Regions from separate parts of the Homo sapiens genome. Here region 1 is linked to region 2. The links come from fine-mapping of genetic effects on plasma protein levels. A gene starts in region 2. The other region holds a variant in brackets. All regions are shown on one strand. Distances are from middle to middle.

Region 1 (8,000 bases), 190 kb after region 2:
TAAATAGCACTTACTGTAATGTATTATACCTAAATGTTTATTAAAAGTTAGAAGAAATGAGTACCAACAGGAAGGAATGGAAGAGAGGAGAGGGGCTAAGACATTGCTGATCTGAGGGACAGACCTCTATCAAATAGAAGAGGGCTGGGAGAAGGGGTGATTAGAAGCAGAGTGAGGGAACTAAATGGAGCCCTGACTGCACCAAATAAAGTTCTCATTTTGCTGCTTGTTCCAAATAAATTAGTGTCTATTTGTGTAATGCAGACTAAATGCCAGTTGTGTAAAGCCAATCAATGCAGAAGCAAGCTAAGAACTAGGAGGAAAAATTAATTGCTTGGCCATCATTCCTTTTGGGACCACATAACCTCCGTGGTGGGGCTCAAATGGACATCATTTCTCTCTTATGCACCTCTCTTTTCAAACTTCTCACTCTCTGGACAGCTTGCTCTTTTCTTAACCATTTATAGGAAATTGCAAAACTTGCATCTTTATGAGCTAGAATTTGGAGCCCAAGGAAAAGCACAGAGTAGCATGAGATGCCAGAAGAGGCCCATTTCCTTCCACAGGGATGAGAACCAAAAACCAAAGAATAGAGAGTAGGGTATAGGTAGATTTAAGTCAGGTTGACGTCCTATGGAAGGCATATGCCATTATTTATGTGGTAACCTGCATGTTCTTGTGAGAACAGGGGCTGGCCAGGACCTGAGGCTTTCCCCAGCAGCCTGGCATATAATATAAGGCAGCTTCCTTTGGTAAATTCATTCAGCCCTATTGTTGAGTTCAGACTGACCATGACCCCCTTACCTCTCCACTACCCCAAAGCTTTCCTCAAGATGTCAGCTGTTCTCTTCCCCTCCCATTTCCCCCTCCTTAATCCCACCATTGGCTCATCAGTTATCCAGTTGACTCCATTCTGAAGGAAGACATTCTCTTGGCCTGACTCACTCAGGCCCATTTCTCCACAGGCATCCCCTTACCGCAGACCACAAGGGCCCTGACTAGCTCATGTTTTGTGTTAATGGATGTGAAACCAGAGCAAATCCCCTCACCAAAAGAAAAACCACCCTAAACTCTCCCACACAGGTCTCAGCAGGTTACACAAATATTAGTCCTATCATCCAAATAAATCTGCCCCCGTGGCCCAGAGCTATGGCTCCCCCAACCTCCTGCTGCCTGTGCAGAGTGAAGCTGCTTCAAAAACATGAGGACCCCAAGGGATATTGGAGAGGAACTTTGGAAAGACAGGGGCCTGTATCCAGAATTCTTTATGCAGGCTCCTTAATCTACAGACTTTTGTTAATACTTTATAGTCCTAAAGAAGGACTGTTCCTAGAGAAGTCATGATGGGCTAGACCAGCCAGGGGCTTTGGTGAAGAGGATCTGCGGGCTGGAGTTTGGTGCATAATTAAAACTCAGCGTCTGACAGCTGGGCACAGTGGCTTGCGCTTGTACGCCCAGCACTTTGGAAGGCTGCAGTGGGAGGATTGCTTGAGACCAAGAATTCAAGACCAGCCTGGGCAACATAGTGAGCTCCATCTCTGAAAACTATGTTTAAATTAGCTGGGCATGATGGCATGGCCCTGTAGTCCCAGCTAATGGGGAGGCTGAGGTGGGAGGATTGCTTGAGCCTGGGAATTTGAGGCTGCAGTGAGCCATGATCATGCCAGTGCACTCCAGCCTGGGCAACAAAGCGAGACCCTATCTCTAAAAGAAATAAAAAGAAAGAAAAAAAAGAACAGGTACGTATCCTCATTTTACAGATGAGAAAATAGAAGCTCAGAAAATTTAGCTACCTTGCTCAAAATATCAAAGCAAATGGCACAGCTGTGATTTTTAACCCGGGTCTGTCATAACCGCAAATTTCTATACCACTCTGCTGCTTTAAGATATCAACAGGCAAAAGATAACCACTGTCCAACTCACATAAAAATAGGACATCAAGTTTTGGGGGACTTCATGTCCTACCTCCAGCTTACTAAGCCTGCTATCTCTGGAGATTCCACTACTGCAAACCTAGTTAGGCAATGGGTAATAGCATTACCCATTAAGCCAAATGTGGAGTGAACAATAATAATAATCACTAGGACTTGGAGAGTCACTAAATAAAGATTTGTTGAGTAAGTGGAGGAAGGCTGCCTTCTAAGCTGTGTATCACTTTGGCCCCAACCTGCAGTACTCCTTCCCACTGTAGCCACTGACTCCTGCTCCCAGCTTCAAAGGCTAGGATCCTCTCATAAAGAATTACCAAAGCCAGAGATCCCTACCTGCCTAATATATACTGATGCCTCATGTGGGCCCTTGAGATCAGACCTGCTTACCTGCTCTCCCACCATCCATGAGTTGCCTATCTTTCTTTTACTCCATGTCTCCCCAAACCTGGCAAACCTCCAGAATAGTGCATGGGAAGAGAAGAAAAGAAAAGAAAAAAAAAAAAAAAAAAAAGGCAACACAAGGCCTAGCCAGACTTACTACATTAATCTATCCTAGGAGTGTTCTAGGGTGTTTTAATGATTTGTTAAGCATGGGAACCACTGCATTCCACCTCAGTTTGAACAGGCAGCAAGTAAGCAAAAGAGGCAGTGCTGTCCAATACAGGTTGAGAATGGTAGAGAGAAAAAGAGAGAATGAATGTGTGTTTGTATTGTTATGATTCTTTTTCTTCTACAAAACACAGTTTATAAACATATGAGCATGTGAATGGAACCTTGTCCACTATGGCTAACATCTCAGGCTCTCAATAATAGAATGTGGTAGCCTAAGATTTTCTTTCGGGGTACCAGGTAGTTCTGCTCAAACGGACTTCAGAGAAGGGACATGCCATTCATCTTTGTCCCATCTAACTTTGGCCAGGTAGAAACAAAAAGAAGCTCTCTACAGGTACCCTTCCTCTTGCACACCAAGAAGTATCGGGAAGCTGGTGCAAAGGAAAGAAAAAAGGAGCCTCAACTACGTACTTTAGTGCAACTCATTTCACTCTAAAGACCCCCTATCTCTTCTACTCTCCCTTCAAATCTCCAGAGCGGGAAATCAGGGAGCTTGCTCAGTTTCTTATATCCCCTGACAACTCCTTCCCAGGGCTAAGGAACCAGCCAGGACACCATGGTCCCTATGGATTACTCTCTACATCCTTAAATAGAAGCGGTAGCAGCCCAGGGTGGAGGGTGGAGGAAGGTGTGCATGCAAGGATCTTGTGCTTTTGAGTTGAGAGGCTTGAATTGGAGGGATGAGTGAGGTATCTGTGTGTTCAGGTTTGGTCCAGCCACTCTGCCTTCTTGGGGGCTTTGCAAGTATGGACGTCCACAGTATTTCTGCATTCCTTGCACCGTACAGCACAGCACCAGTGGAATTTGCACTCACACTGGGTAACACGGGTGACTCGAGTTGTGTCGTACCCTCGGCCACAGCACATGATTTCACAACCGTCTGTTCCTTTTGATGTCTTGCTGCAGACACGGCCTGCAGTGCCTAGGGAACCTGGGTTGGGGAAGAGAGGGAGTGAGAACAAAGTTATCTCTTCAGCTGCCCTGGATACCCTTAACCACATTCTCAGAAGGAAGATAAAAAGAATCGCTTTTTTGGGCTGGGCACAGTGGCTCACTCATGCCTATCATCCCAGCATTTTGGAAGGCCAAGGCAGAAGGAATCCTTGAGTCCAGGAATTCAAGACCAGCCTGGGAAACATAGCAAGCCCTGTCTCTACAAAAACTTAAAAAATTAGCCAGGTGCCATGGGCATGAGCCTGTAGTCCTAGATACTCAGGAGGCTGAGGTGAAAGTAACACGAGGCTGGGAGGTCGAGGCTGCAGTGAGCCAAGATTGCACCACTGCACTCTAGCCTGGGTGACAGTGAAACTCTGTCTCCAAAAAAAAAAAAAAAAAAAAGAAGCATGGGCTCTGACATCATCTTGTCTGGATTCAAATCCCAGTTCTACCACTCTTAGTTGTGTGATTTAGTCAAAATGAAACATTAACTTAGTTTCTCATATGAAAATAAGCACAATAATAGATTGTTAGATATAATCTCTGTTCATCTGAAGAGGTGAACTGATTACCATGACTGGCTGGAGGCATATTCCTAAGGAATTCCTAAGTAATATCCCTTGCATTATTATTATTGCTATTATCCCTAAGCATTATCCCTTCCCCTTACAGTGGAAACTCTAGGATAGGGATCATGTTTTCCCCATGCATAGGGAATGCTTAGAACCTCATTCTGACTGATTTTAGCAAAAGAGATCCTGCCAACAGATCATAAAATCAATAGACTTTTGGATGAGTTGGGCCCATGAGAGCATCTACTCCAAGCTTTTCCATGGTTAATAAGAATCCAGAGATGGGAAACTGACTAGCCTAGGTTCAAAACGGAGAATAGATTAACTGATTTCTACAGAATTAGTCTCCAAATGTCACTGGGATA[C/G]GGGAGGAAAATGCTAGAACTTCTATGTTTTTTATCTCATCAATTTAAAATATTTACGTTTTATAATATACATATTCATATAGTGGAACACAGGTATAAATAAATATACATATAATGGAGATATATGCTCAAATTGTTTTAATGATAGGAGTAAAGGATCCAGAATGTTAGGAGACCACTGGTCTGGAATGTGGACTGACTAGGTCTACTGTATATGTTAGTCTCCTAACTCCAAGGGCTGGGTCTTAAGTCCTCTTGGGCACCAAAAACCCCTTCTACACTGTGGAGCTGTGCTGTCCAGGGTAGCAGCCACTAGTCACATATGGTCTTTTACATCTAAATTAATGAAAATTAAACTAAAAAATTTAGCTCCTCAGTCACACTAGTTATATTCCAAGTACTCAGTAATCACATGTGGCTAGTTGCTACTGTATTGGACAACAGAGATAGGAAAACATTTCTATCATCACAGAAAGTTCAATTGGACTCTATTGCTTTGGAGGGAATTCCTGGCTCCATATTCTTTCTGGGATGACTTATATTCTTTGAATTCCAGGGCCCACTTTGGGTTTTAGGAGGCCTAATTTTATGCCTCTGAGAAAAACGAACACACATTTGACTTATCCTCCCTCCTAACTCCAAAGTTCCTTCCCTAAAGGTGTATTTTCAGTATGGTAGTATAGGTTTACACCTCAGATGTTATGGAATTATTTCTAGGTATCCAGAGAGTGACCCTCTGAATTAGACCAAGTGGGAGGAAAGTATACTTAGTGGCAGGAAATCACTAGGAAAATCAGAAGGGCTCCAAGTTTTTTTCTTCTAGCACCCTACAAAGTATACAGACTACTTTCTTCATTAATTGGGTAGAGCCCCACCCTTTTTCTGTGCCCAGTTTTACTCCAAGCCACTTGACTCTTCCAGGAATGACAGTGATGGGTGAAAACAAACAGTACCGAAGATAGCTGAGGTTTTTTGGCTCCACTTCACCCAAGTCCTGACGCTGAGCCTGTAGAAAAGAGCCTGGGAGCCCCACAGCAATAACCAGAGGAGAAGAGTTCTGCTGCATTGCATGTTCCTAGTTTAACCTATCTGAACCAGAAATGTGAGCCAGGATGGTAACTTTCATTCCCTTGGGGAAAAACCATATCAACTTCCAGCACCTCCAAGAATCCCACCACAAATACCTCGAACAGACTGAAAAACAACCATTTGCTGCTTTACCTGCCTTTGGTAGGGATCTCTTCTTCGTTTCTTTTTCAGCTGTTTCAGAATCTTCAATGGCAGCACACTGGATAAAGCCTTTCAAGGACATCTTTCTAGCTTTAATCTCCCTTAGAGAGAACCTTTACCCAGCAGATTGGTCTGTTCTCTGTCCCTGGGACAGATCATGTGCTTTCCCACCTACTACTCTCTGATAAGAAATTGCCCACTCGTCTCTCAAGCTATCCAGATACTCCCTACACTTCAAGGAGCAGCTTAAATTCTAGTTTCTTTTTTTTCCCTACATTTTCAAATAAACTTTATTGATTTCTCCATCTCTCTTTGCATTTGTCTACCCATTATGTCTCATTTCTTTAAGTAGATTGCGAAGAGCCAAAGGCTTAGGGCTGCATCTTATGTTTCTGTGCAGCCCACACATTGCTTAAAACTGAAAACAGGTAACTAAGTTAAACATACCCTGAATAATGCCTACTGTATCCCAGATGCTGGGATACAAAGGAGCGATGCATGACCTCAGGCCTCAAGGAGCTGAGTGACCTCCTCTCTACTTGGGCAGCACTGGGCCTGGTGGACTGCAACAATCTCATGACCAGGTGTTCATGTGGAGAGGAAACTGCCTCCTCCCACAGCACCCCCTTCCCTAACTCCTGAGACTGAACAGACCATGATTAACCAGGGGTGCCTGCACTAAGAACTGGGACTGCATGTCCCTGCCTGCCTTCCTTACTCACCTGCAGCCTTGTCCAAGACACAGTAATCTGGAGAGTTGTCAAAGTAGACAAGATCAGTCCGGGTGGCACGGCGATAGCCTTGGCGGGCTGCGGTGAAGTTGGCACCATCTTGGGTGGCCATCACCTGCACAGCCCCATCATAGCGTCGCCGCAGGTAATCACCTGTGCGGCGGAAATCTGAGAGTGCACGCCAGCAGGTGCGCAGAGTACAGGAACCACTCACGCCATGGCACTTACACTCCAGCTTCAGAAACCGCCGCACAGCCTGGGGGAGGGGGAAGGCAGTTAAGGGAGAAGTAGCTGGTCAGGACACATTTTAGTCATCCCTAGGTCCAAAAGGATGAGTGCTCTGAGATAGGCTGGACCTGGCCCTGGCTGGCCGATTGAGCTCTCGGTTCTCTCCCACATCAGATCCCACCCATTCTTCCTGATCAAGTTCAAGAAACTCTTTTTCCAGGAAATCTGCCTGAACCAACAGTGCTTTCCTTTTCATGACAGCCCACTGAACTGTAGAGCCACAGGATTCTGTTCACGATGACAGTGTGCTTGCACATCCTCTACTTTTCACGTTTTAGAGTGCCAGGTACCATGCCTTCTACTTTAGTGGTGTGCCATTTTCCAGCATAGTACTAGGCACATAGAAGATGTTCAAATACCAGGGAACTGACTAGAACAACCTCTTATCCTCTCAGTCTTTATGAAGGCAGTTCTTTTCCTTCTTAAAAAGTTACTTCTTTTCTCCACCTTTTCCTACTTTCCACCTATGTGAAGACTCTTCACGCACCTGATTGACCCTAGGCATTCCTAAGCTCCCTTGCATTTAGTTCTCCTGTCCCAGGATGTTGGGGCTTTTGGAAGTGACCCAGAAGCCTTCAGCTCTTCCATCTTCACATTTATTTAGTCCATGGTCACACACACTGGTCACCCCCAGCAAATATGAGTGTACTTACACAGACATGAGTACTGACCGTGCGACCACAGCGGTTATTATGTAAGTTCATGAGGGCCCGGGCATCCTTAAGCCTCTTCTCCTTGGCATCCACGAAGGCCTTGGCAAAACGGACACCGTAGTGGATGTTGTCACTGCAGCCACCCCAGTCAAAGTCCCCACGCTGGTCATGGTGTCGGCCACGGGTGTAGGGGTCACAGCTGCACACACTCAGTTCACCCTGGCTACAGGCGCGAGTAATAGCGTGGACTACCCCTGCTGATGAGATGGCATATACAAAAGCTGCCTCTCGGCTACCTAGAGAGAGAATTGTAGAGGTGTGCTTCAGGAAAGAGGCCCATGTCTGTCCCCTTCTTCAGCCCATACAACCTCTGACTCTGAAACCTCTTCCCTAATTTTCTTTCCCAGAGTCACCCCTACACCCCCTTTATTCAAGGTGCCTTTCATTTCCAAGAGCATTCCCCAGAGTATCTGACCTCTTCCCCTCAGCCCTCACTACTCTCTATCCACTTCTTTGTATATCTGACCTTTTGAGCTGACCTATACTCTTGTTTCCTGCCAAATTCCCTGTGTCCATCCATTGAAAAGTCTCCTGGTGAATCATCCCCTCCCACTGAGTGCCAGCACTGGCTCAGCTAAGCCTGCCTTAGTCCACATTCCAGGCCTTTTCAGGCCCACTCTGC
Region 2 (8,000 bases):
AGGGAAGCAATGCTTGGGACCCCACATGTGGGCCTGTGTATCTGTCTTCCCACATACATGTTGGTACATGAATGTGCATGTGTGCTCCTGGCAGGTATACAGCTCTGGCCCAAGCTCTGGTCCTGGGGGCCCGGGGTACCCCCCGAGACCGTGGCTGGCGTCTCCCCAACAACAAGCTGGGTTCCGGGGATGACATCTCTGTCTTCGTCATCCCCCTGGGAGGGCCAGGCAGTTACTCCTGAGGGGCTGAACACCATCCCTCCCACTAGCCTCTCCATACTTACTCCTCTCACAGCCCAAATTCTGAAGTTGTCTCCCTGACCCTTCTTTAGTGGCAACTTAACTGAAGAAGGGATGTCCGCTATATCCAAAATTACAGCTATTGGCAAATAAACGAGATGGATAAAGGTGTGTGTCTGTATTTGCTTTGACTAGAAACTGAAAGATAAGAAGAAAGCTCTGTGGGGTGGTGGAAAGAGCACCAGAACAGTTCTAGAAATGTGGTGTCCCCCAGGTTCTTTATTCCACCCCCACTCTTTCCACTCCACGCATTTGCTGTGAGTGTCATCATCCACTTCTGTGGCCTCACCCATCTGCCCAGACCCTTCCTGAGCTTTAGACCCACACATACCAGTCATCTCCCGAATGTCTCCTGGATAGCCTGCTGGCACTTCAATTCAAATACCTCAAACTAAATTCACGACTGCCCTCCATAGCATGTTCCTTCTCCTGGTATATCCCCTCAATGGGCACCAGCTCTGCTGCTCCAGTTAGAAATCTTGGAGTTGGTCACCCTTGGCTTTCATTTCTTTCTCATCAAGGTAATTGATCACTAAGTATTGTTGACTATAGACCTTTAAAAGTATTTCTCTACTTATCTCCATCTCTCCCCGCCTTCAGTCACCACCACCTTTTACTATATTGGCCTCCTAAATTTAGTGGCTCCTTATTGCGCCTAGAACAAAATCAACACTCAACTCCTGTGCATGGCATATAAGGACCTTCATGATCCAGCCACTGCTTCCTTCTCCAGCTTCATTTTTTACCACCACCACCAACTTCCTGGGGTTTGCATAACTGTGGGCTTTTAGTAGCTCCAACTTATTCAAAATCTACTGCTGGACACGGTGGTTCACGCCTGTAATCCCAACACTTTGGGAGGCAGAGGTGAGAGGACTGCTAAGCCCAGGAGTTTAAGACCACCCTGGGCAATAGTGAGACCCCATCTCTACAAAAAAATAAAAAATTAGCTGAATGTAGTGGTGAGTGCCTGTGGGAAGCAGTTAAGCATCCAAGGAAATTAAGAGTATTGCTTATAGTAGAAAAGAATAAAGATCTCAAATCAGTGATCTGTTTCCACCTTAAGAGGCTAGAAAAAGAACAGCAAATTAAACCCAAAGTAAGTTAAGGGAAGCAAAAATAAAGATGAGCAAAATAATTAGAAAAGGCCCCTCACCAGCCTGGGCAATATAGCAAGACCTCATCTGTACAAAAAATACAAAAATTAGGTGTGATGGTACACGCCTGTAGTCTCAGCTGCTGGGGAAGCTGAAGTGGGAAAATCATTGGAGCCTGGAAAGTTGAGGCTGCAGTGAGCTGAGATCTTGCCACTGCACACTTAGGCAACAGAGACCTTGTCTCAAAAAAAAATTAAAATTAAAAAAATCTACACATCACCTTATCTTGAGAACTTCACCTGTTGTTCAGGACTGGGTATCGCACAGCCCACACATGCCCACACTACAGCAATGACCTCCGGTATTGTAACTGTCTACATTAGGAGTCAGTAGGGAGTAGGAATTAAGAACAGGGGCTCTAGAGTTCAGCTGTTTGGGTTCTAGTGTCAGACCCAGCACTAGCTCTGTAACCTCTCTGAACCTCAATTTGCTTCTCAGTAAAATGGAGATAGCTACCTCATGGGATTCTTGTAGTTAATGTATGTGGACCCAGGTCCATGTAATATGGATTCAATAAATGTTAGCTATCTTGAAATTGCATTCCTCATTTAGACTCTAAGTTGTTTGAAGGCAGAAATGGATCTTCCGAACATAGCTCTCAGTTCACCCTCGAGAAATGTTCATTGAGTCAGTTAAGAGGCCTGGGGCCAAACTGCTGCGGACCTGTTTTCACATTTGTCAAATGTCTGGATTGCACTTCAGATATTTAAAGTCTGTATGACTCCTAACATTCATTCATTCATCAAATATTTGTTGACAACCTATTATGTGCCACTCACTCTGCTAGACAACGGGGGAAGGGACAGGCTGGAGGAGCCCGTGAGGTAGCAGGGCCAGACCACCAGTTTGGAGCCAGACAGGCCCGGCTGTGTGAATTCTTGCTGTCACAAGTCAAAAACAGTTGTGTAAGCCACTTGATTTCTCTGAACCTCAGCTTCTCTATGGGCAAAAGGGGATGGGTATATTTTCCCCAGAGATCTGTGATGAATATTGAAAGGGTTAAGCTGTGTAGTGTCCCAAGCACAAGCCAATGAAATGTTGGTGGACGTCCTCATTCTACTCCCACCTCCTCAGCTCCCTTACAGGGAAAGGAGATACGCGTGTAGGTAAATATCCTATGCGCCAAGTCAGACCTAGGAGTGGGAACAGAATTCACAGCTGGGATCCAGAAGCATTTCTAGGCGCACCCTTTGAGGAGTAGGTAGGAATTGGACTCCTGGAAATTCCAGGCCCAGGGAAGAAAGCGAATTGTGAGGAGGAACGGTGGTCTGGGTCTGAACGGCTCTGAGAGGTCTTCAAGTTTGGGGGATGACGTTGGGCTGTACGATCCTAGGAACAAGAGGGTGGACATCTCCCCCCAACCAACACACCCGCGCCGGGCCCTGGGACCTCCCGGCGGATACCCTTTCCCAGTCCCGCTTCCCGCGAGGTCCCAGGTGCAGCAGGAGCGGGTGGCCGCTTGGCCACAGGAGGGCAGCAGCGGCCCTTCCTGACCCCACCCCGAGCACCTCTTAACTTTCCCGACGCCGGTCCTCCCCTAGGGGATTGAAGGCTGGGCAGAGTCTGAGTCCACCCGGGTCGTGCTCCCCCCGCTCGCCCGGCTCCTCCGCAGTCCAGGAATCTCCCCGTGGCTCTCCCCGACCTGGAGGGGTGGACGCCCCTGGCCCCCAGTCCCCGGCCTGCGGAGGGGGCCGGTGGCTGCGGCCCTGCGCGGGGCCGGGGCGGGCCGAGCCAAGGGCCGCCCCCGGCCGACCCTCCCCCTGCCGGGCCCGCCCTCCCCGCCGCGGCGCTGGAGGAGGGCGGGGCGGGGCCCTGGGGTCAGTCTGAGCCTCCGGCACCGGCCGCGCAGCTGGAGGCGGCGGAGCGGAAGGTACCCTGGGCCGGGGCTGCGGGCGGTGGGGCGTCTTGGGAACTCGTCCCCAGGAGAGCACTTTCCCTTCCTCGCTGGCCCGGAGATCGGGGCCCGTGCGAGGAGGGGCTTCGGCCTGGGCGTGGACCCCGTTCCCTCCAAGCGGAGTCGGCATCCGGGCTGGGCGGTGGTCGGACCGCGTCGGCCCCTCCCCGGGCTGCAGCGAGGGGGCCCGGACCTGCCGGCAGGGGCTCTGGCCTCCTGAGGTCCGAGTCGGAGCCCCTTCCCTTCTCCTCCCAGCTTCCCGGAACCTGCCCCGCCGGGCGAGGGGCGAGGGAACTTCAACTCAGACGCCCCAGCCCCCAGGGTGGGCGGCCGCAGGGGACCTAGAGTGGGATGGGGTGGGAATTCCTCCAGGCCAGGAGGGAGGTATGGCGGGAATAGGGGCGGGATGTGACCATTGGGGCCTGCCACTGCTCGGCAGGGTCTGGACGCCGCCCTGGACGGTTCCTGGAGCCCGCTTGTGTTGAGGATAAGGGAGATGGGGAAGGATCCAACTCTGTGTGTGTGTGTGTGTGTGTGTGTGTGTGTGTGTGTGTGTGTGTGTGTGTGTGTGTGTGTGTGTGTGTGTGTGGTGTGTGTGTGTGTGTGTGTGTGTGTGTGTGTGTAGAGAGAGAGAGAGAGAGAGAAAATGAGATTGAGAATCCTCCTTCTTCATACTCGAACCAAGAAAGAGTATCCTGGGGTTTGGGACTGGGATCCCGAGGCCGAGTCCCGCCCTCACTCTGGTTTTAAAGTTGAGAATGCAGTATCTCTTGGTATCTCCAGAACGGATTCCTTCCCTAGGTGTAGGGTGGGCCGGCAAAGTCAACCGGCCGCTCTGGATCATCTGGGAATTCAAGAGAGCGATTGGAGAGAGGTCTGATGTAGCCACACTGTCTTGTCTTGGGGAAGGCCCCAGAAGTTCCAGGCTCCATTCCAGGCCCTGTGTGGGGCTCAGTTGCCCCTCTTAAGGGGTCAGTGGGACAGTCCCTCTGGGGCTGCCTCTCACAGGGAGTTGTCCATGCCATCTTGGCCTTGGGCCTAGTGTCCTGGCCTGGGCTGCCTGCTGTTCTGGCCCAATCATAGCCTGGAGGGAAAGTCTTCTAATTGGGCTGGAGGCTCCAGGTCCCTTAACGCATGCCTCAACCCCGGGTTTCTGTCCTCTGCCTCCCACCACTCTGGTGCCGTCTGAATTACCCTGCTGGGGGGACAGCAGTGGCATACTCATGCCTAAGTGACTGGCTTTCACCCCAGTAGTGATTGCCCTCCATCAACACTGCCCACCCCAGGTTGGGGCTACCCCAGCCCATCTTTACAAAACAGGGCAAGGTGAACTAATGGAGTGGGTGGAGGAGTTGGAAGAAATCCCAGCGTCAGTCACCGGGATAGAATTCCCAAGGAACCCTCTTTTTGGAGGATGGTTTCCATTTCTGGAGGCGATCTGCCGACAGGGTGAATGCCTTCTTGCTTGTCTTCTGGGGAATCAGAGAGAGTCCGTTTTGTGGTGGGAAGAGTGTGGCTGTGTACTTTGAACTCCTGTAAATTCTCTGACTCATGTCCACAAAACCAACAGTTTTGTGAATGTGTCTGGAGGCAAGGGAAGGGCCACTCAGGATCTATGTTGAAGGGAAGAGGCCTGGGGCTGGAGTATTCGCTTCCTAAAGGGCAGTGTGAGGTGGTGGTGGGGTGTGGGGAGTAGAGGCGTTCAGTCAGCCCAGTTTGACAGGATGTGGGACTGAGAGAAAAAGCTAGGTTTGAGGCTGAGATCAGGTTACCGTCGCTTTCTTAACTGCTCCCTGCCTGGTTGGTGCTGGGACTGGCCCTCATTTGTCTCTTCTTTTGGGGCTCCTCCCAGCCCAGACTCTAGCCCCCTCCCCCTTCCCAACAGCCTTGACTTCATCTCAGCTCCAGAGCCCGCCCTCTCTTCCTGCAGCCTGGGAACTTCAGCCGGCTGGAGGTCAGTTCCCCTCCCCAGGGAAGGAGGAAGTGAGGGAAGCTGCGAAGGTGTGATGAACTGTGCAGATGCTCGCTGTGTGTGCTGGGGGTGGGGGACACATGGAAGCCCGGGAAGCTGACTCCTTGCCCTGAGTCACAGGGAGGGGTGGGCAGGGCATGCGGGTGAGCTGGACTGAGGGAGGAAGGGGCTGTTCCAGAGTGGGTGGAGGTGATTCCCTGGTGGATTCTTCTCAGTCACTGTGCTGTGGTAGATGTGTGGCTCCCTACAGTGTGGTCATTGTCCCCTGCCGGGGGCTGAGTGACCCAGTGTTGCTGGCAGGCCTAGGAGGAAGGGGGGAGGAAGGCAGCCTGCCCAAACTCGAGCTGTGGGCATTGCTGGGACTGAGCCTCCTTTGTATTACTTGGGGCTTTGGGGACCGGGTGGGGTGGACCAGGGAAGCTGGCTGGCTGCTACCCCTGTCCTCTGTCTGGGTTTCCCTGCTTCTGCTCTCCCTCCTGCCCCTGAGGTGACATGTCGAAGAGGCACGACTTTGAGTCACACAGTCCTGCTTTGGGTGCTGTCCCTGCCCCTTATAAGCCACAGCTCTGAATCTGTCTTAACCTCACTGAGCCTTAGTTTCCTGGTTTGTCAAAATGGAAAGTGCACCATCTACCTTCCAGGCATCTGGGTACCGAAGGAGATAATTCCTGCCAAAATGCCCGACAGAGTGCCTGGCACCTAGGGGCTCTATAACTATTCTTCCTTTACCCACCTACCACCTGGTAGCTGGTTCTGCTACTCTGGTCCTAGAGAGGGACTCCTCATTTGTGACTGGACAGGTATGACTTGTGCTGAGGGACAGTCTGTTCTAGATTGGACCTTAGAGATTATTAAACTGTAAATGCATCAAAATCCTGGTAACCAATGAAGTCTGACTCGAAACCCTGATGTGTGAAGTAGATAGAAGCTTGCTCCCTGGACGTCCCGCATCCCTGAGCAGCTCTCTAGCTACCTGGAGTCCCCAGGTTGGCAAGTGGATTAGATTGAAACTCATGTTTTCCAGCTCCCAAGTGGGGTCATCATCTACCTCCCACCACTGTATTCTAACCCATCGAGGGAGACCTGTCCCTGACCCAGAGATTAGGAATTTCAAGCTCTGTTGTCGCACAATTGGTGTTTTGCCAGAACATGCCTGAGCAAGCCCCCTGTCCCTTTGCTAGATGCCTCGGTTTCCAGGGAGGTTTGGGGGCCCTAGAGAAGTGTTTTTGGACTTAATGGCTTTTCCTCAAATCCCCAATACGTCTTTCCTGGCAGCCCCACCATGGCTGCAATCCGAAAGAAGCTGGTGATCGTTGGGGATGGTGCCTGTGGGAAGACCTGCCTCCTCATCGTCTTCAGCAAGGATCAGTTTCCGGAGGTCTACGTCCCTACTGTCTTTGAGAACTATATTGCGGACATTGAGGTGGACGGCAAGCAGGTGAAGGCAGAAATGCCCTTCCCACCCCACCCTGAGACCCCGCCCCCCAGTCACTGAATGACCTAGTATGTCCTTCCCCATTCCTACCCCTGTCTTTGCTTCATTCTCCCTGCTGGAACCAGTAAAAGTTAGGAAGTAAATCTGCAGTCTTAAAAAACCTGGATATACTTTCTGGTTCTCCCACAGACTGGCTCTGTAACCTGGGCCGAGTCCCTTTGCCTCTGGGTTTAAGCTCCCCCACCTGCAAAATGGGGATGATGGTAAGACCTCCCTCAAAGGGTTGTTGTGAGAATTAACCAAAATAATGGTGCTCACAGTGGCAACTCAAGGGTCAAACACGTCTTAGATTTCTTTAACAAACTGACCTAATTTATGTTGTGGGACAGTGATTAATATAATGCCTGGTGCATAGCAGGTGCTCAAATAAAGAAGTTCAGTGAGCCCGAAGGACAGTGGTTTCAGGGGACCTTTGGGTGGCAGGGTTGGGGCCCTCAGGCCAGCTACTCACTGGCCCTGTGTGTCAGGTGGAGCTGGCTCTGTGGGACACAGCAGGGCAGGAAGACTATGATCGACTGCGGCCTCTCTCCTACCCGGACACTGATGTCATCCTCATGTGCTTCTCCATCGACAGCCCTGACAGCCTGGGTGAGGGGATTGGAGGGAGGGGACTGAGAACCCCTTGGAATCAGCCAGAGGTCTCGTGCCTTGGCCTGTCTTCAGTCATCTTCAGAGGTGGGGGTGGGGATGCAGGGGAGCACTCAGGCCCTGTTGGTCTCCTTTACTGTGGTAACTGGCCCTCTGAGGGCATACTACTGTTGAGGTTTTGAGCTGTGAAAGGGACCATCATGCTGAATGGCTTCTAAGACTGCTCTGGGAAGATGAGGGCCCCCCCAGGGGAGCTTTCTAGCTTAAGTGGAGGCACCGACACCTGTTGGTGCATGTCTACACAGAAAACATTCCTGAGAAGTGGACCCCAGAGGTGAAGCACTTCTGCCCCAACGTGCCCATCATCCTGGTGGGGAATAAGAAGGACCTGAGGCAAGACGAGCACACCAGGAGAGAGCTGGCCAAGATGAAGCAGGTGGGTACGGCTGCCAGGCTGGAGCCCCTGGGGAAGAATGCACCCTCTGAGGGGTTGCAGACGGGCAAAGGGAACTTCTCTCCAGCTACTGCCGTGTGTTAGGGGAAACAGTAATATCTCCTGGTGAGGGAGGACCCATAGGGTTGTGTCTGATGAGG

Direction of the effects. Alleles are on the strand shown, and positions count from the first base shown. The strength of an association depends on the size of the effect and on how common the allele is.
With allele C in place of G in region 1, the plasma level of the protein whose gene starts at base 3,278 in region 2 is lower (moderate association).

The links. A credible set is the group of variants that fine-mapping cannot tell apart. PIP is the chance, under the fine-mapping model, that this variant and not a neighbour inherited with it causes the effect. Protein levels are from antibody-based Olink assays in UK Biobank. Linkage for the fine-mapping came from a reference panel and not from the study's own genotypes, which makes the PIPs less certain.
Region 1: its variant is the best candidate, but not a certain one, in a credible set for the plasma level of the RHOC protein (UK Biobank, PIP 0.61).

The regions. Positions count from the first base shown.
Region 1 is chr1:112,515,754-112,523,753 of GRCh38, reverse strand. WNT2B (Wnt family member 2B) reads right to left here. Exons shown (of 5, transcript NM_024494.3): 3 at 7,337-7,614; 4 at 6,369-6,633; 5 at 1-3,474. The coding sequence ends at 3,245. It overlaps ST7L (suppression of tumorigenicity 7 like), which reads left to right. Exons shown (of 15, transcript NM_017744.5): 15 at 1-240. Among named protein-coding and RNA genes, the nearest start is that of WNT2B, 11 kb to the right of the region's middle. The variant C/G (reference allele first, on the strand shown) is at 4,417.
Region 2 is chr1:112,702,405-112,710,404 of GRCh38, reverse strand. RHOC (ras homolog family member C) reads left to right here and starts at 3,278. Exons shown (of 6, transcript NM_175744.5): 1 at 3,278-3,327; 2 at 5,237-5,305; 3 at 6,599-6,761; 4 at 7,286-7,406; 5 at 7,712-7,842. The coding sequence starts at 6,606. PPM1J (protein phosphatase, Mg2+/Mn2+ dependent 1J) reads left to right here. Exons shown (of 10, transcript NM_005167.7): 10 at 95-407. The coding sequence ends at 242. RefSeq lists a silencer at 2,839-3,558 and enhancers at 4,818-4,867, 5,615-6,169.